Linked DNA regions of Homo sapiens. The protein of the gene in region 3 purifies or fractionates together with the protein of the main gene of each other region. This does not show direct contact. Each region holds a gene or a part of one and is shown on either strand. Other genes may lie near its edges. The genes, in order: PALD1, SAV1, PUDP, SHKBP1, HAUS5, TANGO6 and ASCC3.

Region 1 (3,500 bases), on a different chromosome or scaffold from region 3:
TTAGAGATTTGCCTGGAGGAGGGTAGACACTCAGGTCCCAGGCACACTGGCTCCACAGGAGGGTGTGAGGGGCAGAGACAGCCGGGTGTGGTCCCAGAGCCCCTTCCATCAGTCTTGGGCAGCCCCCAAGTCCTCCCCAGCAAGGGGCTCCTGGCGTTGGGAGGGGGCTTCTGTCTCAGCAGCTGTCTTCCCTCAGGGCTTCCCCGAGGTGGGTGAGGAGGAGCTCGTGAGTGTGCCTGATGCCAAGTTCACTAAGGGTGAATTTCAGGTGAGCATGCCCTGCGGGGTCCCTGAGGCACCTTGGGATGGGAGGAGGAGGAGGACTCCTGCTTGCCGGTCTAGGGGTCCTCAAAGCACGTCCCAATGCAGTCACGTCTGCCACCTCATCATATCAGTGCTTCCCTGTTCCCATTTTATAGATGAGCCCAGCAAGGCATGGGACAGCTTGGCTCTGAGGCCCTGGCAGACGGCCGGCTATGGAGATGTGGGCTGGACCCCTCCCTGCCCGGCCTTGCTGTTGGGCTGCTGTGTGCCTTGGGGAGGTCACTGGCCACCGTCTTGTCTGGGTAATGTTGATAACAACCTCCCAGCACCTTCAACCCAGCTGTGGTTGGTGACCTTGTGTGGGTCCCCAGCCTACTTTGCCCTGCCTGTTCCTCTATTTCAGATTAGGGCACTGGATGGCCAGCCACAAACATTCCAGATTTAGTCATCCATGTATTGTGCACCTGCCACATGCCACAGGCCATCTTCTCAGGCATCCCGAGAGTCGTGGCAACGTCCCTCGGAGTTGGCCCATGGCTGACCCACAGTCAGCAGCACAGTTGGCTCGTGTCTTACTGGTTAACTTCGCCACTTGCCCCTCCCCTGCCCTCGCCCCAGTCCTGAGGCCCTGACCGCCATGCAGCACCTCACACTTGCTAAGCTCTTGCAGCCTTTGCATATGCGGTGCCTTCTCCCTTCCTTCTTCTGGCTGATTCTCTGATTCTTTCCTTTTTCCTTTTCTTTATGTGGTAAAATATGCATAACATAAAATGTACCATTTCAACCATTTTTAAATGTACAGTTCAGTGGTGTTAAGTACATTCACGTTGTTGTGCAACTGTTGCCACAACCCATCTAACTCCTTCATCTTGCAAAACAGAACTCTGCTCTCCTATTCAGTAATGATTCCCCATCCTCCCTCCCAGCAGCCCCTGTTCTACTTTCTGTCTCAATGGATGTGACTACTCTAGGAATCTTCTATGAGTGGAATCGTACAGTATTTGTGTTTTATGACTAGTTTATTTCACTGAGCATAATGTTCTCAAGGTTTACCCACATTGTAATATGTGTCAGAATTTCTTTCCTTTTAGAGGCTGAATAATATCCCATTGTATGGATAGACCACATTTTGTTTCTCCATTCCTCCATCAAGGGACACTATTTGCTTCCACCTTTTGGCTGTCATGAGTAATGCTGCTATGAAATGCATAGTGCACGTAGCTGAGTCCCTGCTTTCAGTTCTTTTGGGCATATACTCAGGAGTGGAATTGCTGGATCCTATCGTAATTCTGTTTACTTTTTTGAGGAACCACCATGCTGTTTGCCGCAGTATATGCACCATTTTACATTCCCACCAGCAACACACAAAGGTTCTGATATTTCCACATCCTCACCAACACTTGATTTCTTTTTTCTGTTTTTTTTAGAGATGGGAGTTCACCGTGTTGGCCAGGCTGGTCTCGAACTCCTGACCTCAGATGATCCACCCGCCTCGGCCTCCCAAAGTGCTGGGAGCCACTGTGCCCAGCCGTTTTTTTTTTTTTTTTTTGGATAATAGCCATCCTGCTGGGTATGAAGTGGTATATTGTGGCTTTGATTTGCATTTCTCTAATGATTAGTGATGTTCAATATCTTTTTATGTGTTTATTGGCCACTTGTATATCTTCTTTGGAGAAATGTCTGTTCAAGTCCTTTGTCCATTTTTGAATTGGATTGTTGTTGAGTTTTGGTTCTTTATATATTCTGGAAACTAATCACTTATAAGAGAGGTGATATGTAAATATGTTCTCTATTCTGTGGGCTGACTTTTTACTCATTGATAGTGTCATTTGATGCACAAAAGTTTTTAATTTTGATGTAGTTTGTCTGTTTTTTCTTTTGTTGCCTGTGCCCTTGGTGCTATATCCAAGAAATCATTGCCAACTCCAATGTCATGAAGCTTCTCCCTTGTGTTTTATCCTAAGACTTTTATAGTTTTTAACTCTTAGGTTTAGGTCTTTGATCCATTTTGAGTTAGTTTTTTTTATATGGTGTGAGGTGAGGGTTATCTAAGTTTATTCTTTTGCATGTGGATATCTGGTTTTTCCAGCACCGTTAGTTCAAGAGTCTGTCTTTCCCCATTGAAGGGTCTTGGCACCCTTGTTGAAAGCCAGTTGACCATATGTATAAGGGTTTTATTTTCCAGCTGAGTTTAGTCTTTGCATCGGTGCCTTGAATGTGATGGTCAGGCCTCTCCTTCTTCACACCAGGCCCCGTGCTGGGAGCTGTGTGTACTCCCTCTGTCCCCTTTCCCAGCTCCCAGGAGGTAGGTGCTTTTACTGCTCCCAGTTTATAGATGAGAAAATGAGGCCTGGGGAGACAAGTTTATTACCCTAGGGCCACATCAGAGAGGTGGGGCTGGGGTATAAGCCAGGCTGTAGACCTCAGAGCCTGTGTTCCAAAGTTACATCATATGACCTGAAGACACCCCTGTACACCCTATCCTCACCCACCCCCAGATAATCTAGACCAGCTTCCTTTGCAATTAGTTCAGCATTTGCTGAGCCCACAGTCTGTTGGGGAGAAAGGATCAATAGAGCGTGAAGAGGCCCAGAGCAGACACTGGTTCTAAGGGCCAAGAGTGCAGCTGAGGGAGCCTGAGAGGACTTCATAGAGGAGGCAGCATTTGAGTGCCTTTGGGGAAGATGAGTGAGTATCCTTGGTGAGGAGGGGAGTGTCTGGAGGGATCAAGTGTGCAAAGGAGGGATTCTGGAAAGGGCAGGAACTATGTAAGGCTGTGATTTGTCAGAAGGGAAGCAGGCAGGACTGAGGGGTGGGGGCCCATATTGTGAAGGCCCTGGAGGTTTGCACTATGTGTTTGACCTTGACCGTGAGGCCAGGAGGGAGGCAGAGGAGGTTGTGATCAGGCTCTCAGTCTGGGGGCCCCAGCAGGCAGTTATATGTGGACTGGGGAGTGGAGGGAGAGGCAGGAGCTGAGTGAGGAGGGGCTGCAGGGTGAGCAGGAGCAGCCCAGTCCTCATTGGTAGGTCTTGAGGGCTCCTGGATGTGGGGTGAGGAGGGCACCTAGGATGACCTCGAGTTTCTGGCTTTGCAGTAGTGACAGCTGTCGATGTGGAATTCAGGGGAGGAACAGCTGCAGCAGAGGCCAGGAGTTGGGTTCCCTGTGAAGAGCTGCAGCCCTCTGTCTGAGGTGGCCCCCAGAGGACGCAGTTCCCTGCACCCTCCTGGGGACCTGC
Region 2 (3,500 bases), on a different chromosome or scaffold from region 3:
GACAGAACTAAAATTTAAGCGCAAAACAAAGGAATTCAGTCTGCCTTTAGTATTCCAACTAAAGACTTCCTGTTAACAGCAGGATTCCTTTCTTTGGAACATACAGTAAGTGCGTGACTGGTATGCGGCCAAGAACATTAAAGGTCAAATTTTCTAATCTGAAAGTTCTACAGCTAAACGTAGAACTTTCTAGGCTCTAAAACTTTCTGAGATTATACAACTTGTTTTTGTGCTTCTACTAAATACAATAAGCTGAATTTAACCCTTGACACAAGGTGTTTCCTGAAAATCTAATAACTAATTGACAGGAATTACTATTGCCATTAAGTCATTACAAAACAAATTTTCCAACCTTTTTATGCTTATGACAATCAAAATTCAATGTTTCTGAAAATAGATCTATCGCACAAACCTATCCTATCCTCCTACAAACTTACTTTCTCCTTTCTATTCATTCAAATTCCTTGAACCTTATTCAGCATAAATCCTAAAAATATGTTTTAAGTCTTCTCAAGGTGAATTCAAGAAACTTTCAGCTACTGTCTCATATTCAGATTTTTCCCTTGTGGAAGAGGCAGTTATTAGGCTTTTCTGTTTGGCATGTAATTGGTTATTAATCTTTCCCTGCAACTTTAGAGATTCCTTCAAAAAAAGTACTACTTTTTTCTACAAGGTAAAACATTAAATCTATATTGCCCTGATAAAAATTAATCTTATCAAATGAAGTCTCTCAAGCTCTCAAGCAGTGTATCAACTGCTGTAAAGAATTTTTTTTTTTTTTTTTTTTTGGTTGGGAGAGATACCTTATTACCTGAGATTCTTCAACTACCTGCAACCTTCTTTAAACCTAACGCAATCTGATATAAAAGAGCCTGGGATGAGACTTCGAAGGCAGAAGTCTACTGTCTCATTAAAACAAGGTCTTGGCTATTCCATGAAATCAAATCTTATTTCAGTGCATGTGTGTTCCAATAAAACTACTGTATTGCAGGAGGCAAGTCTATCTGGCCTATGGGTGTAGCTTGCTGACTCCTGCTGAAGCCTCCCTCATAAAATTAAAAACACCCTCAAGATTAAAATTACGGTAGGGGCCCGAATTTTGATAAAATATTTTCCTTCTCTTTTTCCACCTCCATGTATGACTGCTTGCAAAGTCATTTCAACAAATGGCAGTCACTAATAATTGTCTTCCTGTGGCAGCCCCTGGGCAGGCTGCCCATAAGATTAACAAACCTGTTTCTTTTAAAGAACAATAATCCAGACTGGGTGCTGCGGCACATGCCTGTAATCCCAGCACTTTGGGAGGCCAAGGCAGGCAGATTGCTTGAGCTTGGGAGTTTGACCAGCCTGGGCAACACTGAAATTCAGTCTCTACTAAAAATACAAAAAATTAGCCAGGTGTGGTGGTGCATGCCTGTAGTCCCAGCTACTCAGGAGGCTGAGGTGGGAGGATTGCTTGAGCCCGAGGTCGAGGCTGCAGTGAGCTGTGATCATGCTACTGCACTACAGCCCGGGCAACAGAGCAAGATCCTGTCTCAAAAAAGAAAATAGAAGAGAAGAACAAGAAAACAATGATCCTAGATCACACAGACCCCCTTGATAGTTTCCAGAATTTGGACTGGCCAAACAGGCCAGGCCACTTTGATCACTGGTGATCTCACCTCCTGCAAACTCTTCTGCTAAGCTATAGGTTTAAACAGTAACCTGCCATTTTTTCCCAGCTTTCTTTCCATAGTAACTGGCAGTCACAAACACTACTGTAAAACCTAAGACTGGTCTTCGAGATATTTTTCAGACTTTGCTTACAAGTGGACCAACTGACACCAAATGGACCAGTGTTCCATGAACTCAACCAAGGAACTGACTTGGTCTTGTGACTCCCCAATTTCCCAGCAACTGATTCAGCACATGAAGACAGCATTGATAACCCTATGATCTCATACCAGTCCAATCACCAGCACCCATCCCCTAGCCCCCTGCCTGCCAAATCATCTTTAAATATCTTAGCTTCTCCAGTCTTGGCGGTGATGACTCTGAGAAACATTTCCCATCCTCCTTACTCAGCTGCCTTGCAATAATTAAACTCTTTCTTCTTTACAGTATCTGCTGTCTCAGTGTTCTGCTCTATTCGGATAGCAGACAAGAGCCCAGTCAGGTGGTAACATTGTTTTATAGCATTTTTTGGATACATAATTATTTGCACATGTTTATGGGGTACATGTGATATTGTGATACATGCAAAGAGTATGAAATAATCAAGTCAGGGTATTTAGGGTATCCATCACCGTGAGTATTTATCATTTCTATGTGTTGGGAACATTTCAAGTCCTCTCTTTTAGCTATTTCAAAATGTTAACTGTAGTTACCCTACTCTGCTATCAAACCTTAGAACTTATTCCATCTAACTTTATGTTTGGACCCATTAACCTACCTCTCTTTACCTCCCCTCCCATCCTTCCCAACCTCTGCTATCATTCTATCTCCATGAAATCAATGTGTTTCGCTCCCACATGTGAGTAAGAACATGAGACACTTCTCTTTCTGTGCCTGATTTCCCTTAATATAATGACCTCCAGTTCCATTCAAGCTGCTGCAAATGACATGATAAACATGGGAGTGCAGGTATTTCTTTGATATACTGATTTCTTTTCCTTTAGATAGATACCCAGCAGTGGAACTGCCGGATCATATGGTAGTTCTGTTTTCGGTTTTCTGAGAAATTTCCAAACTGTTTTTCATAGTGCCTGTCCTAATTATTGTAACATTCCCACCAACAGTCTGTAACAGTTGCCTTTTCTTCACACTCTCACCAGTAGTATATTTTTTTGTCTTTTTAACAATAGCCATTCTGACTGGGGTAAGACACCTCACTGTGGTTTTCACTTACATTTCCTTGACGATTAGTGATGTTGCACATTTTTTCACATACCTTTTGGCCATTTGTATGTCTTCTTTTGAGAAACGTCTATTCATGTCCTTTGCCCACTTTTTAATGGGGTTGTTTTTCTTACTGTTGGCTTCCTTGCATATTCTGGATATTAGTCCCTTGCTGGATGAATCTTTTGCAAACACTTTCTCCTATTCAATATGTTGTCTCTTCATTCTGTTGTTTCCTTTACTGTGCAGACGCCTTTTGGTTTAATATAGTCCCATATGTCTATTTGTTTTTGTTGCCTGTGCTTTTGAGGTCTTAGCCATAAAATCTTTGTTAGATCGATGTCCTGAAGTGTTTCCCCTACATTTTCTTCTAGTACTTTTATAATTTCAGGTCTTAAGTCTTTAATCCATCTCAAGTTGAATTTGCATATGGTGAGACAAGGGTCAGATTTCATTCTTCTGCATGTGGATATCCAATTTTCCCAGCATCGTTTATTGAAGAAAGTGTCCTTTTCCCAATGCACGTTCTTGGTGCTTTTGTAAAAAAATCAGTTGGCTGTAAATATGTGGATTTATTTCTGCATTACCTATTTTTGTTCCATTGGTCTATGTGTCTTTCTATA
Region 3 (3,500 bases):
TCAATGTAGACAAAACAGCCTTCTATTGGAAGAAAATGCCACCCATGACGTTCATAGCTAGAGAGGAGAAGTCAGTGTCTGGCTTGAAAGCTTTAAAGGACAGGCGGACTTTTGTGTTAGTGGCTAATGCAGATGGTGACTTTAACTTGAAGCCAGTGCTCATTTACAATTCTGAAAATCCTAGTGCTCTTAAAAATGATGCTGAATCTTCTCTTCCTGGGCTTTGTAAATGGAACAGCAAAGCTTGGATGACAGCACATCTGTTTACAGCATGGTTTACCGAATATTTTAAGCCCACTATTAAGAATTACTGCTCAAAAACAAATATTTCTTTCAAAATATTTCTGCCCACTGACAACGTACCTGGTCACCCAAGAGCTCTGATGGAGATGTACAAGGAGATTCGTGTTATTTTCAGGCCTGCTAACACGACATCTACTCTGCAGCCCATGGATTGAGGAGTAACTTCAACTTTCAAGTCTTATTACTTAGGATATGCATTTCCTAAGGTTATAGATGCCATAGATAGTGATTCCTCTGATGCATCTAGGCAAAGTAAATGGAAAACCTTCAGGAAAGGATTTAGCATTCCAGATGCCATTCACAACATTCATGATCCATGGGAAAAGATGAAAATATCAATGTTAACAGGAGTTTGTAAGGAGTTGATTCCAATCCTCATGGATGACTTTGAGGGGTTCAAGACTTCAGCAGAGGAAGTAACTGCAGAATGTGATGGAAATACCAAGAGAACTAGAATTAGAAGTGAAGCCTGAAGATTTGACTGAGTTGCTGCAATCTCAGGATGAAACCTGAACTGAATAGACACTGCTTCTTAGGGACGCGAAAAGAAAGTGGTTTCTGGAGATAAAAATCTATTTCTGGTGAAGATGTTGTTGAACATTGTTGAAGTGACAACAAAGGATTCACTATATTAACATAAACTTAGTTGGTAAAGCAGCAGCAGCAGAGTTTGAGAGGACTCCAATTTTTTTTTTTTTTTTTTTTTGAGACAGAGTCTTACTCTGTCGTCCAGGCTGGAGTGCAGTGGTGGGATCTCGGCTCACTGCAACCTCAGCCTCCCGGGTTCAAGTGATTCTCGGGCCTCAGCCTCCTGAGTAGCTGGGACTACATGTGTGCACCATCATGCCTGGCTAATTTTTGTGTGTGTATTTTTGGTAGAGATGGGGTTTTGCCATGTTGGCCAGACTGGTCTCGAACTCCTGACCTCAAGTGATCTGCCTGCCTCTGCCTCCCAAAGTGCTGGGATTATAGGCATGAGCCACCATGCCTCGCCAAAAGAGAATTTTTTTGTAAAAGAAAGAATCAAGTGATGTGGCAAACTTCATTGCTGTTTTATTTTTTAAAATTGCCACAGCCACCCCAACCTTCAGCAACCACTACTCTGGTCAACAGTCAATATCAAGACAACACCTTCCACCAGCAAAAGAATTACAACTCACTGAAGGATGACATGATCCCTAGCACTTTTTTTTTTAAAGCAATAAAATGTATTTAAGGTTATGTACATTTTTTAGACATAATGCTATTGTACACCTAATAGAATACAGTATAGTATAAACCTAACCTTATGTGTACTGGGAAACCAAAAACTTCATGTGACTAATTTTATTGCGATGTTTGCTTTACTGTGATGGTCTGGAACTGAACCCACAATAGTTCTCACACATGCCTGTATCCAGTTTACTTAAAGATTCTAAATAAAACCATATTGCTTTTATTTGAAAGAGAGAGCTAGAAAAAAGAAAAGGATATTTTACACCTGCATGCCTAGAATCTGCTGAATATTTGTGTTGCCAGCTGGACAAAACTCTTATTATTTATCTGCAGAATTTTGCAATTTAAGTTTTACCCCCTTCTCAATTATTCTAGAAACAGAAACAGCTGCAGTGGACAACCAACCACTTACTACAAGAACTTAAGGTTGGCATGGTTCAGGTCAATTAGAAAACAGAACCAAACGGAGCTAAATCTATAATCTGATGCTGTTTCTCCAACATACAATATAGCATCTTACTCTAAATCTCTTCGGACCCTTAATAGGAACACACGTGTCTTGTGCTTTCTATATTCCAGAAGCCTTTTCAGTTTCCAGAAACAACAGATTACTCATTGATCACCCTGTAGTGAAAGGCCAATCATGGCCCCTGAGATAAGGGTTCATCTCTGTCCCAAGCCCTCACACTGGCCTCCACCCTCAGCCATCTCCTTTGCAAACGTGGAAGAGAACCTACATTTCACCTAGCAAGGGTAAAACCCAAGGGTACACTGTCAGCCTCCAGGGAAGACAGGGCAAAGAAAGAATGTGAACCTACCACCAGAGTTGCTTTGACATCCAGAGCAAGACCCATTACAAATGATGGAAGGAGGGGAGATTGTGATTACGATCTCATTCCAACTAGGATCACTGCACGTTCTGGGGTTAAACAATAACCACCTATGGAAGCATGCAGAATGATCCTTCACTTTGCTCCACCTTCCTCAGAAATGTGCCAAAACTCTTAGAAATCCCACTTGGAATGAATGACTTGATAACATCAAGTAGTAAGAACCGACTGAGGCTGAAAAGCTTGTCAGCTGCACTTTTAAACCTCAGACGTATTTCATGGGGTCAAATGACAACATACATAGATTCTTCTGACAATCCACCTAGGGCATGCGCTAATATTACGTAAGAAAAATCTATTTTTGTCATCAGCTATATAGATGTTCTGGTGTCTAAAGAAACAGCCTACATGAAGTTAACAAAGAATGACAGCGCAAAACACACTCACGCTATGTCTGTGGAATTTTGGCCACACAGTGGACATGACTGTCAACTGTCTCAGGCAGCCCACAATCCCATCAGTACTGGGCTTGGTAATCCCCACAGAGACCCTACCTCCATGACCTTTTAGGGTCTCCTGGGCCCCAGACAGTGAGGCAGGCACTTATAGTCTCAAGTGCTATTATTTGGCAAGGAGGAAGCTACGGGAGTGCAAAAAGGCACAGAAGAGGTCTTCATTTTACTAAAGGTGAAGTAGAAGTCACTCATTAAAATCCTGCAATCTGGATTTATAAAGATATGGTATATTATGGTCAACACTGCAAATGTTCTTATTACCCTTCGCAGATCTACCTTATTATTTTACGATATTTAAGAAACTGGAAATAAGCTTATTTTCCTTTGATTTTAAAAGGATTTTAAATAATTCTGTATTAGACTCCAAGAAAACACATTTTACACATACCACATTTTACATACACCAAAACTCCTAATTCTGAATATTCTTAACACCCACCCTCTGCCTGACCCTCCCAGCATAGCCATTATCAACAGACATCTTGGGTTGCTCCACAAAGACCTAGACCCATGCTGTCCAAGCCAGTAGCCACCCACCAAATGAGGCTACAGAGTGCCTGAAATGAGGCTAGTTCAAACTAAGATGTGTTGTATGTATAAAACACACACAGATTTTGAGGACCTAGTATCAAAATTA
Region 4 (3,500 bases), on a different chromosome or scaffold from region 3:
AGCCGGGAGCCCTTCCATTCCTTTCCTTCCGTGGTGACCCCTCACAGAGGATGGGCCCTCTCCTCCACCTCCAGAACCCACCCACTGCTCCCCAGCCCCGTCCACCCCAGGCCTGCCTTTGTCCCTGTCTTGTTCCCTCCCTTCCTCCCTTTGATGCATCTGTCTGTCTGACTCTTGGCCTCTCCTGGACTCTGTACTTTTTAAAGTTTTAATTTTTTAAATTTTTTGTAGAGACAGAGTCTTATTATGTTTCCCAGGCTGGCGTCAAACTCCTGGGCTCAAGCCATCCTCTTGCCTCGGCCTCCCAAAGTGCTGGGATTACGGGCGGGAGTCACTGCACCCGGCCTCCACTATGTACTTCTGACATGACTCTAATTCATCTCCATTTATCTCTCTGAGTTCCCCCATCTGCCACAGTGGTTCAGTCTGGTTTGACTCTGTCTACCCTTCTCTGTCACCTCTTTCTGATTTTCTATTTCTATTTGCCTGGTTTTCTGCCTCTCTGTCTCTTTCTCTGCCTCTGTCTGTCTTTCTCCCAAAGCCATCCTCCCACCTCAGCCTCCCAAAGTGCTGGGATTACAAGTGTGAGCCACCGAGCCAAGCCAGTTCTTGTCTTCTACAGCATCCCCCCTAACCTGCTCTCTCACCCAGTCCCAAGACAATCCTCCCTACTCCTTTTCAAACCCATTCATGCTTCATGTGGGCTCTGCAGCACCTCCTCCAGGAAGGCTTCCCTGGTGCTCCTTAGGCCTTTATCACAGACATCCCCAGGCTCTGGCCAGCTGCTGGTTCTCTGGCTTCCTCCAGGCTTAGGGGGTGGGGGTGGGGGCAGACGTGAACCCCTTCCTGGGTCTGTACAGTCTGGAAAACTGGGAAGGGGGCAGCCAGGCTGGCCAGAACTCTGACCTGCCAGTGCTTGGTGACGGCATTCCACACCCCGATGCGCCCTGTGTGGCTTGTAGCAATGAGCTGGTTCCCGACGAAGAACAAGGCCTCCACAGGCACCCCCAGATGAAAGACCCCTGCAGTGGGCAAAAAGGGCTCAGCTGGAACCCTGCCTCATGGAGGAGGAGAGGTGGGAGGAAGAACTCCAAGGACCAGAGGGTTCAGTGGGACCACAGAATCCTTGAAGGATAGAAGATTCCATCAGGGGCTGGGCACAGTGGCTCACACCTGTAATCCCAACACTTTGAGAGGCTCAGGTGGGCGGATCATTTGAGGCCAGGAGTTTGAGACCAGCCTGGCCAACATGATGAAACTCCATCTCTACTAAAAAATATAAAAATTAGCTGAGTGTGGTAGCACACAACTGTAGCCCCAGCTACTTGGGAGGTTGAGGAAGGAGAATTGCGTGACCCCAGGAGGCAGAGGTTGCAGTGAGCCGAGATCATACCACTGTACTCCAATCTGGGCAACAGAGAATGACTCCATTTCAAAAAAAAAAAAAGTGAAGATTCCAGCAGGAATTAGAGAAGATAAAATGGGCCAGAAGATTTCTGATGGGGTATGGGATTCTAAAACGGTCTGGAATTCTAACAGCACTGAGATTTGCAATAAGGCAAAAAAACCTCCACTGGTGGCAGGGGATTCTTACGAGGGCTGAGATTTATTTGGGGACAGATTAATAAGTCCGAGATTTGTTGCTGTGGCTTTGAGACAGGGTCTTGCTCTGTTGTCCAGGCTGGAGTGCAGTGGTGCAATCATGGCTTACATAGCTCACGGCAGCCTCGAACTCCTGGCCTCAAGCAATCCTCCTGCCATGGCCTCCCAAAGTGCTGGAACTACAGATGTGAGTTACTGTGCCCAGCCATAAGTCAGAGATTTCTTTTTTTGTTTTTTTTTTTTTTTTGAGATGGTGTCTCACTCTGTCCACTCTGTCGCTCAGGCTGGAATGCAGTGGTGCGATCTCAGCTCACTGCAACATCTGCCTCCCAGGTTCCAGTGATTCTCCTGCCTTAACCTCCTGAGTAGCTGGGATTACAGGCACGTGCCACCACACCCAGCTAATTTTTTTGTATTTTTGAAATAAAGACTGGGTTTCACCCTGTTGGCCAAGGGGGTCTCGAACTCCTGACCTCAAGTGATCTGCCCGCCTCAGCCTCCCAAAGTGCTGGGATTACAAGCATGAGCCACCGCACCGGGCCAAGTCAGACATTTCTCATGGCCACACAGAATAGCGCATTCTAACAAAACCAAGAGATCTAACAGGGCAGGGAATTCTGATGGAGGGAGAATTGTATGTGGGTGGATTTTTCTAGGAAGCCAGGGAATTCTAACAGGATACAGAATTCTGAAGGGCTGGAGCATTCTAATGACACAAACAGATCTAATAGAGCAGAGAATTCTTATGGGTTTGAGGATTTTATGGGGTGGGTCATTTTAACAGGCAGTAGAATTTAAAGGACAGAGGGTTCTGGAAAAGGCTTGGGGTCATACCTATCTCGGAGCCACCGCCTTCCGCCTGCAGAGCCCATAGCAGGATCTCGCTGCCGGTGGCTGCTGCCACCATCTTGTCATGTTCACCCAAAGCCCCACCATGCACCCGGGCTGTGAGCGCCAGTCGTTCGATGGGCCAGTCCAGGCGGGGGCTGGAAAACACCAGCTGCCAGCCAGAGGCTTCCTTCAACCTGTAGGATCGAGGGGACATCACCAACCCTCACCGCATGCCCTTCCCATCAACAGGGCTGGGACCTCCTGCCACTCCCTCCCCAAGCACCTGTAGCAGACTAGAAACTGGGTATAGGCCACAGCGATCCAATTATGGTGTCCACACACCAGGCGCACCATCCCCGGCTCCTCAGGTTGTCCTTGAGGGGAAGAGTAGGGATCAGAAGAGGGTCACAGGGACCCCACAGCTGCCCCAACCTTCCACGAGATAGAAACGTACCTGAGGGTGAGGGAGGGGTTTTCTCATCCAGCATTCGGCCCAGCAGCCCTGCATTGCCAAGGTTGGGGGGCATCGTGTTGCTCCGTCGGACAGGGGCTGGCCGTCCTCCTAGCTGCTGAGGCCCCACTAGGCTGTGCCGGTTCCGCCGCTTCACTGGGAACACTACAGTGAGAATAAGAGGTAGAGTAACAGTCATTGTAATCGTGGCTGTCACACAGCAAGCACTTAAAATATGACGGTGATTGATTTCCCCATGTGTGGGACATAGTCTCCGGGTGAAGATTTTAAGTGGTGCAGTGACACAGCATGAAATGACACTGAACCACATAGCAAGTTACTTCCCTTTCAGTTCCCTTGAGCCCAGCACAGAGGAAGACTGAGTTTAGTGCTGCTGTGATATTAATGAATCTGCAGTATTACCTAATTTTCCGTTTTTTTTTTTTTTTTTTTTTTTGAGTTGGAGTTTCGCTCGTTGCACAGGCTGGAGTGCAATGGCACAATCTTGGCTCACTGCAACCTCTGCCTCCTGGGTTCAAGTGATTCTCCTGCCTCAGCCTCCCAAGTAGCTGAGATTACAAGCACCCACCACGACACATGGCTAATCTTTTATATT
Region 5 (3,500 bases), on a different chromosome or scaffold from region 3:
TCCAGCCTGGGTGACAGAGCAAGATGCTATCACTTAAAAAAAAAGAATGCTGTCACTTAAAAATTAAGAACTGGGCCTCCTAGGCAAGAGCCCAGGTGAGACTCCCAGGCAGAAGCAGGACCTAAGCAGAGAGGCACACTGAGGCTGGGAGCTGGGAGGAGTGGGTCTCAGGGTATCCTGGTTCCTCAGGAGGAGACCCAGGAACAGGTCCGCCTGCTCATCAAGGGAAACTCGGCCAGCAAGACCCGCCTGTGCCGGAGCCCGGGGGAGGTGAGATGGGAGTTGGGGTGAGGTCTGGGTAGGGCTGGATCTGCCAGGATGGGGCTGGGTGGACTTGTGATGTTGTGATGCCCCACCCACCCCTCCCCTTCCCCACAGGTGCTAGCTCTGGTCCAGCGAAAGGTGGTCCCTACATTTGAGGCAGTGGCACCACAGAGCCGGGAGCTGCTGCGCTGTCTGGAGGAGGAAGTCCGGCATTTGCCCCACATTCTGTTGGGCACGCTGCTGCGGCACAGGCCGGGAGAGTGAGACTGGGGCTGCCCCACCCCTGCCCTGCATCCCCTGCCATGGGTGACTGTCACTCCCTGAACCTCCTCAAAAAAGATAACCCCAGACCCCCAGTGTTCCCAGGCTGCCAGACCTCACCCTTGGGTCAGCAGCCCTGGTCTTGGCATCCTAGTCCCCAGACCCACCTTGAAGTTCCTGGGCCCCCAGAGCCTCCAGAACCCAAGGCCTCCTCTCAGTCCCCACCCAACCCAGACTTCTCCCCGCCCGTAGGTTGAAGCCCCTGCCCACGGTCCTCCCATCCATCCACCAGCTGCACCCCGCGTCCCCAAGGGGCTCCAGCTTCATAGCGCTGAGCCACAAGCTGGGGCTGCCTCCAGGGAAGGTGAGTGCCCGTCTCCTGTGACTTGTCTCCCCAGCCCCGCCCCAGGTGACCGTCCTTCCCTCCTCCTCCAGGCCTCGGAGCTGCTCCTGCCGGCGGCTGCCTCTCTTCGCCAGGACCTTCTGCTCCTGCAGGACCAGCGGAGCCTCTGGTGCTGGGATCTACTCCACATGAAGACCAGCCTGCCGCCAGGCCTTCCCACCCAGGGTAGGTCTGCCCTGCCACCCCATCCAGCCTCCCCGCCCATTCCCACTACCAGCAGCCTCCACGAGTCCTTACCAGCAACCCCGTTGTTTACGCAGTGCCCATTGTGTGCTAAGGGCTTTAAACATTCTCCCTTGTTTCATCTGCACGGCAGTCCCATAAGGTAAGTGCTGCTGTTCTCTCCATTCTACAGAGAAGGGAACTGAGACGCAGAGGTTAGTAGGTTGCCCAAATGGCAAAGCTGGAATTTGAATCCAGGTGGTCTGAAATGGGTCTGTGCTCCCAACCACTAAGCTACACTGCCGTCGACTTTCCACGTGTTCATTCATCACCGTCACATAGTATACCTCAGCAGTTCAAAGCCTGGGAATCCTCTCTGCCGTCTCTTCCTAGCTGTGTGGCCTCCCCGTGCCTTAGCTTCCTCCTCAGTGGAGTAAGCATGAAGCAATATCTTACCGAGGTGCTGGGCAGATTGAGGCAGGGGACCCACACAGGGCACTGAACACTGCCTGCTATGCAGTAAGCACCCTGTGTCTCCAATGTGATTAGCATCATTGTCTGTGTACACACACAGTCTCTTGGAGTCATGACGATGAGGAAAGGGACTTTTAAGAACCCCAGTTTACAGATGAGGAAACTGAAGGTTAGAGAAGTCATTCATTCCTGGATTCACTCACCAAATACTGGGTGTCTACCAGGTGCCAGCCCAGATGGCTTGATGGGGAGTGAGGAGAAAGGTCCCCACCCCAGGGGTTTCCCCAGATGGAAGTAAAGAGTAAAGAATGAAAGGATAAATACATGGAAGAGGAGAATTGATGAGAAATGAACCGGCAGTGCCAGCAGCACTGGAGGAAGAGACTGTTCAAGCCTCTGAGTTTGGGGCTCCCTGCCCTCCACTTCTTCACAAGGGGAGGGAACAGTGTGCAGGAGCAATGAGAGCAGCCCCAGACCCCACACGGCCTCTGCCCACCTCAGCCTCTGCCTACCACGCCCTCTGCCCACCTCATGTGTTTTTTGTTTTTGCTTTTGTTTTTTTGAGACAAGGTCTCATTCTGTCACTCAGGCTGGAGTGCAGTGGTGCCATCCTGGCTTACTGCAGCCTCAACCTCCTGGGCTCAAGCCATCCTCCTGCCTCAGCCTCCCGAGTAGCTGGGACCACAGGCATGCACCCCACACCCAGCTAATTTTATATTTCTTATAATCATGGGCATCTTGAACTGTACACATCTATCATGGAACTCCTGGTTCTCTCTACTCCAAAAAACAATTTTGTTCCTCTTCTTGGTTTCCTTCCTTGTTAAATTATCTCACCCTCCTCATCCAAGTGCTGCACCCAGAAACCCAGGAGTCATCCTGAATTTCTCCATCACCCTAATCCCCCCACCCTCACCAGCTTCAGCCTCTCAGCAAGCCCTAAGGGTCCCATCCCCAGAGTTCTCCCATCGGTCCCCTGCCCCAGTAATTCCACCTGACAGCAGACGGAGCTGAACAAAGAGCCAGTGTCGTGATCAAGGTCACAGGGCAGGGATGGGATGGGGTCAGGATTCAGGCCCAGCTTGTCTGATCACGCTGCTCGTCTGCACTTGCTGAGCTGGGCCTGTTCTGTGCACATGGAGAGGTAGGCCCAGTCCCAGTCCCAGAGGAAAGCACCGCTAGGGTGAAGCTAGAGCAGGCGGAGGAGGAAGCCTTGGAGCGAGAGTGTTGGAGGGGCCTCCAGGAGGAAAGATACTCTCTACTGTGGGCCCTGGGAATCGGCCAGGCTTTGCCACATCATGAAACTCAAATACCTGCTGAAGGGCTTGGACTCTGCCTTGGGGGCACTGGAGAACCTTGGAGGGTTCTAGACAGGAGGGAGAGCATCAAATTTAGGCTTCAGGAAGATCACTGTGGTGTAGTGCGGAGGGTGAACCAGAGCAGGAGACTGAGGCCTGGAGCAGAGGAGAGGAAGAAACGCTCAGGAGACTGAGCGGACAGGCCATGGAGATTGATGGGCTCTCACGGGGAGGGAGGAAGGCATCCAGAAGGAGGCCTGGATGGGGCTGGGGGTGGTGGACTGCCCTTGAGATGAGGATCTGGGAGGAGGGACAGGTCCTCATCTCAAGGGCAGTCCCTCAGAAGGGGACTTCCAGGCTGGGAAGAGAAGGAGACAGACTCATCATTGGTTTGCGGGAGCTGCTGAGGTCAAGACTAGGGGACTGGAGAATTGGGGACTCATTGCTGTAAGGTACCAGCGAGCCAGAGGACTCAAAGCTGCCTCCTGGCTTTCTCACCCTCAGAGCTGCTGCAGATCCAGGCATCCCAGGAAAAACAGCAGAAAGAGAACCTGGGGCAGGCTCTGAAGAGGCTGGAGAAGCTACTGAAACAGGCACTGGAGCGAATCCCTGAGCTGCAGGGGATCGTGGGGGACTGG
Region 6 (3,500 bases), on a different chromosome or scaffold from region 3:
TCTTGTTTATATTAAATTCTAGAATAGGCAAAACTAATCTACGGGTTAAAAAACCTAGAACCAGTTATCTCTAGGGGAGCAGGAGTGGGAAATGATTGTGAAAGGGCAGAAGGGAACTTTCTGGGATAATAGTAATGATGCATATCTGTTTTTTCTTTAGGTTTCTTTTTTTTTTCCTTTTCTCACCTGGAAGTAACAATGTGTATCTTGACAGGGGTTTCAATGACAAAAGTATATGCTTTTTTTTTTTTTTTAGACAGAGTCTCGCTCTGTCACCCAGGCTAGAGTGCAGTGGTGTGATCTCAGATCACTGCAAACCCTGTCTCCTGGGTTCAAGTGATTCTCATGCCTCAGCCAAGTACATGCATTTTTAAAACTCACTGAATGATGTATGTATTATTTGTGCATTTCATTGTATATAAATTTTACCTAAAACAAATGAACTACAAAAAACCCAAATAAATATTAAACTCTAGTTAATGTTACAATGCTGAAGTGTTTATGGCTAAAATGTACTGATATCTGCAACTTACTTTGAACGCATCAAAAAAAGAGAAAACATGAGTTGATGCATGGATAAATGGATAGAAATGTGATCAAGCAAATATAATAAAATGTGAATTGTGGAATCTAAATGATGTGTATAAGGGTGTTCGCCATATAATTCTTTCAACTTTTCTTTTTTTCTTTTTCTTTTTGAGACGGGGGTCTCGCTCTGTCACCCAGGCTGGGGTGCAGTGATGCAATCACAATTCACTGTACCTTTGATTCTTGGGCTCAAGCAGTCCTCCCATCTCAGCCTCTCCAGTAGCTGGGACCACAGTTGCATACCACCCCACCTGACTAATTTTTTCATCTTTTGTAGAGATGTGGGGGTCTCACTATGTTGCCCAGGCTGGTCTTGACCTCCTGGGCTCAAGCAATCCTCCCGCCTCAGCCTCCCCAAAGTGTTGGGATTACAGGCATGAGCTACTGCACCTGGCCACGAGCTTTTCTATTTGTTTAGAAAACCATAATAAAATTTTGAAAATATATATGGACATCAGCCAGGTCAAATAAACTAAATTTTTTTTTTGAAAATATAAATACAAGCAACAGACCTCAAAACTAAAGCTAATATACCTTGTAAGAAACAAATTAGAAGGAATCAAAATGTAATTGATAATAACTATGTCCAATACTGCATGATTTATAATAGTGTAAAATTAGAAATGCATGTCCCATAACAGGTGTTTGTTGAGTAAATTATGGTCTAATTCTATCTAACATACTATATGTATGTGAAGTACTTATTTTGTTTATTGTTTATTGTCTTTCTACCAACTAGAATCAAAGCACCTAGAAAACAGGGGTATTGATTTGTTTTGTTCACTGCTGTATTCTCTTTGCCTGGAACAAAGCCTGACAAGTAAAAGCTGTTTAATAAATTGTTGTTGAATGAATAAACAATGGAATATTTTGTAGCCATTAAATGCTGAACATTATTTAATGACATGTTCATAATATATTCGAATGTGAACAAAGAGTATAAAACATTACATGAGCAAAAGATACAGACAGTTTATAGGAAAAGAAATGCAAATGGCCCTTAAACATGAACATATGATCAATCTTGCTCATAATAAGAGAAAAGTAAATTAAAGTTATACTGAAATATCACTTTCCATCTATCGAACTGGCTAAAATCCAAAAGTTTTATAACACATTCTGTAGCAAGTCTGTGAGGAAACACACACTCTCATACATTGTTGGTAGGAACTAAAATGGTACATCCCCAAGGACAGAAATTTGGCAATATCTAGCAAAATTACATAGGCATTTCCCTTTGGCCCAGCAATCCCACTTTTAGGAATCTATCCTATAGATACACAGGCAAACAATGCAAAATTACGTATTTACAAGACTATTCATTGCAGTACTTCTTAAATTAGCAAAAGACTTGAAAACAACCCAAATGTCCACTAGTAGAGAACTGGTTGAATAAACTATGCAGCTATAAAAGAGAAAACGGAAGATTTATACGTACCATCATGTACCGATTGCTAAGACACTAAATTTAAAAAGTAAGATGCAGGCCGGGCGTGGTGGCTCATGCCTGTAATCCCAGCACTTTGGGAGGCCGAGGTGGGCGGATCACAAGGTCAGGAGTTCGAGGCCAGCCTGACCAACATGGTGAAACCCTGTCTCTACTAAAAATAAAAAAATTAGCCAGGTGTGGTGGCAGGCACCTGTAATCCCAGTTACTCGGGAGGCTGAGGCAGGAGAATCGCTTGAACCTGGGAGACGGAGGTTGCAGTGAGCCGAGATTGCGCCACTGCACTCCAGCCTGGGAGACAGAGCGAGACTCCATCTCAAAAATAAAAATAAAATTAAAATTAAAAGACGCAGAAAAAAATATATATAGTATGCTACCTTTTGTGTAAAAATGGGAATGAATAGGAAATCACAGATTATTTGCATGTCTTTTCAAAAAAGAAGCAATTTAAGAATAAATTTAAAGCTAATTAAAATAAGTCATCTACAGAGAGAGGGAGAGAGCAGAGGAGGAAACATGGATAACTGTATCTAATTTTATTAGTTTTAGAGCACAACAGATGTTTTTCATAGTTAAAAAAATTAAATCAAAAAGAAAATGCAAAACAATTCCTAAAAATGAAAAACAAACAAATGAACCAATGAACCAAATTCTGCGCTCTATGTCAAAGGTCACCAAACTATGATCTGCAGTCCAAATCTGGCCCACCAACTGTTTTCATGAATAAGGTTTTACTGGAACACAGTTATGCCCATTTACATATAGTCTATGGCTGCTTTTGAGATACAGTGACAGAGTTGAGTAGTTACAACAGAGACCATATGGGCCGCAAAGCTCAAAATATTTACTATCTGGTCCTTCAGAGAAAAAGTTTACTAACTCCTACTCTATATTAAGTTAGCAGCATAACCACACAGAAAATTATTTTAAGAGACTTGAAATAAAGAATTTTGTATATCCTGAGAACAAAAACCAAACAAAAACCCCTTAAACAGTGGGTTTGTAGTGGTAATGTTGGATTTGTTCTTTGAAAAGATTATAGACCTGGATGAGTATGTATTGTGTGATTACACATTTTATATAATGTGTGATTATATATTTATATATGTATGGGTATGTATACATGCACATATATAATACATTAATTTCATTAGGAACCAATATTCTCAGATAAAAGAAATACAAATATAAAAATATAAAATATAGGATAAAAGAACAGCTAGAGGCTGGACGCAGTGGCTCACACCTGTAATCCCAGCACTTTGGGAGGCTGACGTGGGTGGATCACGAGGTCAGGAGTTCGAGACCAGACTGGTCAACATAGTGAAACCCCATCTCTACCAAAAATACAAAAATTAGCCGGGCTTGGTGGCACATGCCTGTAGTCCCAGCTACTTGGGAGGCTGAGGCAGGATAATCGCTTGAACCTGGGAGGCGGAGGCTGTGGTGAGCGGAGATTGAGCCA
Region 7 (3,500 bases), on a different chromosome or scaffold from region 3:
ATGCTGCATTATAGTAAATGGAAACTCTTTAAAAACATGCAATGTATTTAATTTCAATGTGAAAAATTTAAATAAATCAGCCCCAAAATTCCAATAAATACATTGATTCTTCTAGGTCAGAGAAGAGGAAATAGAGGAGTTAGATACCTTATTAAGCAATTTTTGTGAACTCTCCACTCCTGGAGGTGTAGAGAATAGTTATGGGAAAATAAACATCTTACTTCAAACTTATATCAGCCGAGGAGAAATGGACAGTTTCTCCCTTATATCAGATTCTGCATATGTTGCACAGGTAAGTATCTTATTCCCTTCCAGTTTTCTCTTCCTTGAATATATTTAGAGGACCAAGGTGTTAATTCATGCTGTGCTATGAATGCATTGCTTTGTGACATGCTACCAAACCACCATTTTACTTAGAACTGTTTCTGCTAATTTGTAAATATTTTATGTAATCTATGCTCATAAAACAGGACTGGGGATGAGATTTGGTGACTGATAGGGCTTTTTTTGGTGATGTTGATGTTTCTTACAAAGTTTTAAAATGATACCTGATTTTTTTCTACTTTAAATGATGAATTTCATTTCTTTTACTTATAAAGTAAAAGAATATAAAGTACTTATAAAGAGAAAAGTTAAAGAATATTGCAAGCATAAAGAAAAGATTGTGGAACTTTTTTAGATTTTTACCAAATATTAGAAATAATAATATTTTTAATCATTAAACAAGGCGTAGTAAACATATTTCCTACCATACGTTCAGTGTGATGTCTCTGGTTTTTACAAAAGTAATCTCTCCTCTCTACTGTTGAAACTTAAACATTGAGGACAGAAAGAAAATTATTCCCTAAACTACAGCTCATTTAATTTATAACTTTTAAAAAATACCATGGTATAAACTGTTCAAATATTTGTGTTTTTATATTCAAGCCCTTATGTGAAGTAAAGTAGGTTATATTTTACCCTATTTATCCTTCAAATGAAAGATTTCCCTTCTAGACATACTTTTTTAAAAAAATTATTTACCTGTCAAGGCTTTTTAATTTTATTTTATTGAGTACTTCCTTTTATAAATTAAGAAGAAATTAAAGCTTAATTTTATTTTAAATATGGAAATGATTCTGCTGTTATATTTGTAATTTTGTTCAAAGAAAGACTAAATATAGAAAAAGAATGTTTGTGTTAAATATATCATTATTAATAGCCATGAGTACTCAGGAGTCCTTTAAACATGGAATATTTACAAACACAAACCAAGACATATTGGTAAACATTTTGAATGCATGTAGTAATTTAATCAATGTAACCAAGATACCAGGTTATATAATTCATAAATTATATAAAGTTAATATAGATGTAGTGAAAATATTTATATATTCTTTAAACCCTATAGCTTCTATAGGAATAATTTTCTAATCTCCTTTGTTTTATCTGTTTTTCTGTAAAGTAATGTAATATTGTCATTTTATATTTTCTAATGATTTTATATTGAAATAGTTAATCATTTAAATAAAAGGTAAAGTTTTACTGGGTTCTGGATGAATAATCTGGCAACATTTCTGCTTGCTTCAAGATTATGAAGATATTATCAGAGACTGACATAAGAATTGCTTACAATGTAAAACTTTAATTCTCTTCATGATTGGTATCCAGGAAGTCAACTTCTGATTAAGGATATCTCAAAGCATCCCTGTTTTTTCTTAAACAGCCATTATGGATTTAGCATCCCTGAATGCATCAGATAAATTATACTTTATTACATTTTAAGTTTAAGCTATCAGTAATTGAACAACTACTCTCTCAACTCTGTAAAATGATATTTTCTTCTATATTTTTTAAACTTTCTCTCCTCAGCCCCTAAGGTAAACCTATAGCTCAAATATTCTAGGATTTTATTTAAAGGCCTATGCTTAACTTTTCTAGACTGTACATGTTATAGACTTATTATTTTGAACCAATTTATATCATTCTAGATTAACATGTCCTGTTTGTATCTTGTCATATGGAATTTCTCCTACTTCTTTTAGCATTGAGGGGATAACTGTAGATCCTGAAATATTAAAATGACATACTTTCAAAGGCAGGAAAATTAGCCTGATAGTTTTTTGTAAGAACAAGTGGGAATGAGGTAGGAAAACCTATTTGGTAGATACAGTAATCAAAATTTTATTTATTATTCTCTGGGCCTTATAAAGACCCATTCAGTCATTTTTAATGGATATCAGAACTGTCCTCATACTTCTATCTACCATTTTGTACTTTAATTTCTAATACTGAAACAAAATAGTCAAATTTATCAAAAGACAGCGCATATCTTATATAAAATGTGAAATGAAAGCCTTTAACTCATCTGTCATTTTTGACTTCATAATTTTAGGCTGGATTGTTTGTCTGCCATTTGAAATCTTTTCAGTTTTGTATCTCTTGTTTGGATTTTAACCAGACTGAACATTCTTTATTTTCAAATACAGATGTTACTGGATTTTGGAAGGTATAAGTTCATTTAAAAAACAATCTTTAATAAAACAATCTGCAAAGTTAATGATAGAGGAGTGGAGGCAAAATAAATGGGAGCTAGCTGTAGAAATGTGAAGAAAAAGACTACATTCATTATAACTTTCTATATGTCTATTAATAAAGTTATCCTCAGACCACTGAGTCTAGAATCTCAGTTATATTTGGAGTCCTTTAGTCCTGGCTTTGAGTAGATGCTCTGACACCAACTAGCAGTGTGACCTTGGTCAAATTTTTTACCTCTTTAAGCCCTAGTATATTCATCTATAAAATCATAATATTAATATCAATTAAATGCAATTTTTGTAAAAGTTAAATGAGGCAATATATGTAAAGCAAGTTAACACATTGTTTGGTTTATAGGAAGCCATTTGTATGGCCCTTTCATATGAGTAGCTACACTAATCAGTATTTCATTTGTCACCCTTCTCTCATTATTTTTTTTCCCTATCAGGATCCCAGTCTTCCTTAATCCTCTAAATAGCCTTGTAAATTTAATCATTCCACTATTCACCAAGAGGCGTCCTTGTCTCTTATAGTCAGATGCCTTAACAGCCTCCTAAATATTTTGCATGCCTTTTGTCTCTTCCTACTTCATTCCTGTTTAGAAGGTAGAGCTTTCTAAGAACTTGGAAATAAGGCTTCCCCTCTGAGAGTAAGCAAGTAGCATCCACATATAAAGGATAGGATTATTCTTATGTAGAAATAATAAGATAATTAGGATTATATGAGAAAAGATATTGCCCCACAATTCAAGGATGCAGCTTGACTTGCACTTCTTTTCAGACTGAGTTTGAATAATAGATTTATTGACAAATTTAAAAGCACATTGGGTATAACCACCAATCTCCTCCTATAATTTTTTAGAATGCAGCTAGAATTGTCCGTGCTCTTTTTGAAATTGCTCTGAGGAAACGTTGGCCTACCATGACCTACAGGCTCCTGAATCTTAGTAAAGTCATTGACAAGAGGCTTTGGGGTTGGGCTAG

The links.
Region 1: the proteins of PUDP (region 3) and PALD1 purify together in Homo sapiens (affinity purification with mass spectrometry; one large-scale study listed by BioGRID and IntAct). This does not show direct contact.
Region 2: the proteins of PUDP (region 3) and SAV1 purify together in Homo sapiens (affinity purification with mass spectrometry; one large-scale study listed by BioGRID and IntAct). This does not show direct contact.
Region 4: the proteins of PUDP (region 3) and SHKBP1 purify together in Homo sapiens (affinity purification with mass spectrometry; one large-scale study listed by BioGRID and IntAct). This does not show direct contact.
Region 5: the proteins of PUDP (region 3) and HAUS5 purify together in Homo sapiens (affinity purification with mass spectrometry; one large-scale study listed by BioGRID and IntAct). This does not show direct contact.
Region 6: the proteins of PUDP (region 3) and TANGO6 purify together in Homo sapiens (affinity purification with mass spectrometry; one large-scale study listed by BioGRID and IntAct). This does not show direct contact.
Region 7: the proteins of PUDP (region 3) and ASCC3 purify together in Homo sapiens (affinity purification with mass spectrometry; one large-scale study listed by BioGRID and IntAct). This does not show direct contact.

What each region holds. Positions count from the first base shown.
Region 1 is NC_000010.11:70,541,267-70,544,766, forward strand, and holds part of PALD1 (paladin), read left to right. Parts: intron 1-196; coding exon 197-268; intron 269-3,500.
Region 2 is NC_000014.9:50,658,307-50,661,806, forward strand, and holds part of SAV1 (protein salvador homolog 1), read right to left. Parts: intron 1-3,500. UniProt on the Homo sapiens protein: Regulator of STK3/MST2 and STK4/MST1 in the Hippo signaling pathway which plays a pivotal role in organ size control and tumor suppression by restricting proliferation and promoting apoptosis.
Region 3 is NC_000023.11:7,141,654-7,145,153, forward strand, and holds part of PUDP (pseudouridine-5'-phosphatase), read right to left. Parts: intron 1-3,500. UniProt on the Homo sapiens protein: Dephosphorylates pseudouridine 5'-phosphate, a potential intermediate in rRNA degradation. Pseudouridine is then excreted intact in urine.
Region 4 is NC_000019.10:40,579,873-40,583,372, reverse strand, and holds part of SHKBP1 (SH3KBP1-binding protein 1), read right to left. Parts: intron 3,050-3,500; coding exon 2,888-3,049; intron 2,808-2,887; coding exon 2,717-2,807; intron 2,628-2,716; coding exon 2,437-2,627; intron 1,023-2,436; coding exon 907-1,022; intron 1-906.
Region 5 is NC_000019.10:35,619,235-35,622,734, forward strand, and holds part of HAUS5 (HAUS augmin-like complex subunit 5), read left to right. Parts: intron 1-189; coding exon 190-270; intron 271-378; coding exon 379-524; intron 525-777; coding exon 778-889; intron 890-960; coding exon 961-1,093; intron 1,094-1,188; coding exon of another isoform or gene 1,189-1,205; exon of another isoform or gene 1,206-1,253; intron 1,254-3,366; coding exon 3,367-3,499; intron 3,500-3,500.
Region 6 is NC_000016.10:68,850,031-68,853,530, reverse strand, and holds part of TANGO6 (transport and Golgi organization protein 6 homolog), read right to left. Parts: intron 1-3,500.
Region 7 is NC_000006.12:100,647,330-100,650,829, reverse strand, and holds part of ASCC3 (activating signal cointegrator 1 complex subunit 3), read left to right. Parts: intron 1-115; coding exon 116-292; intron 293-3,378; coding exon 3,379-3,500. UniProt on the Homo sapiens protein: ATPase involved both in DNA repair and rescue of stalled ribosomes. 3'-5' DNA helicase involved in repair of alkylated DNA: promotes DNA unwinding to generate single-stranded substrate needed for ALKBH3, enabling ALKBH3 to process alkylated N3-methylcytosine (3mC) within double-stranded regions.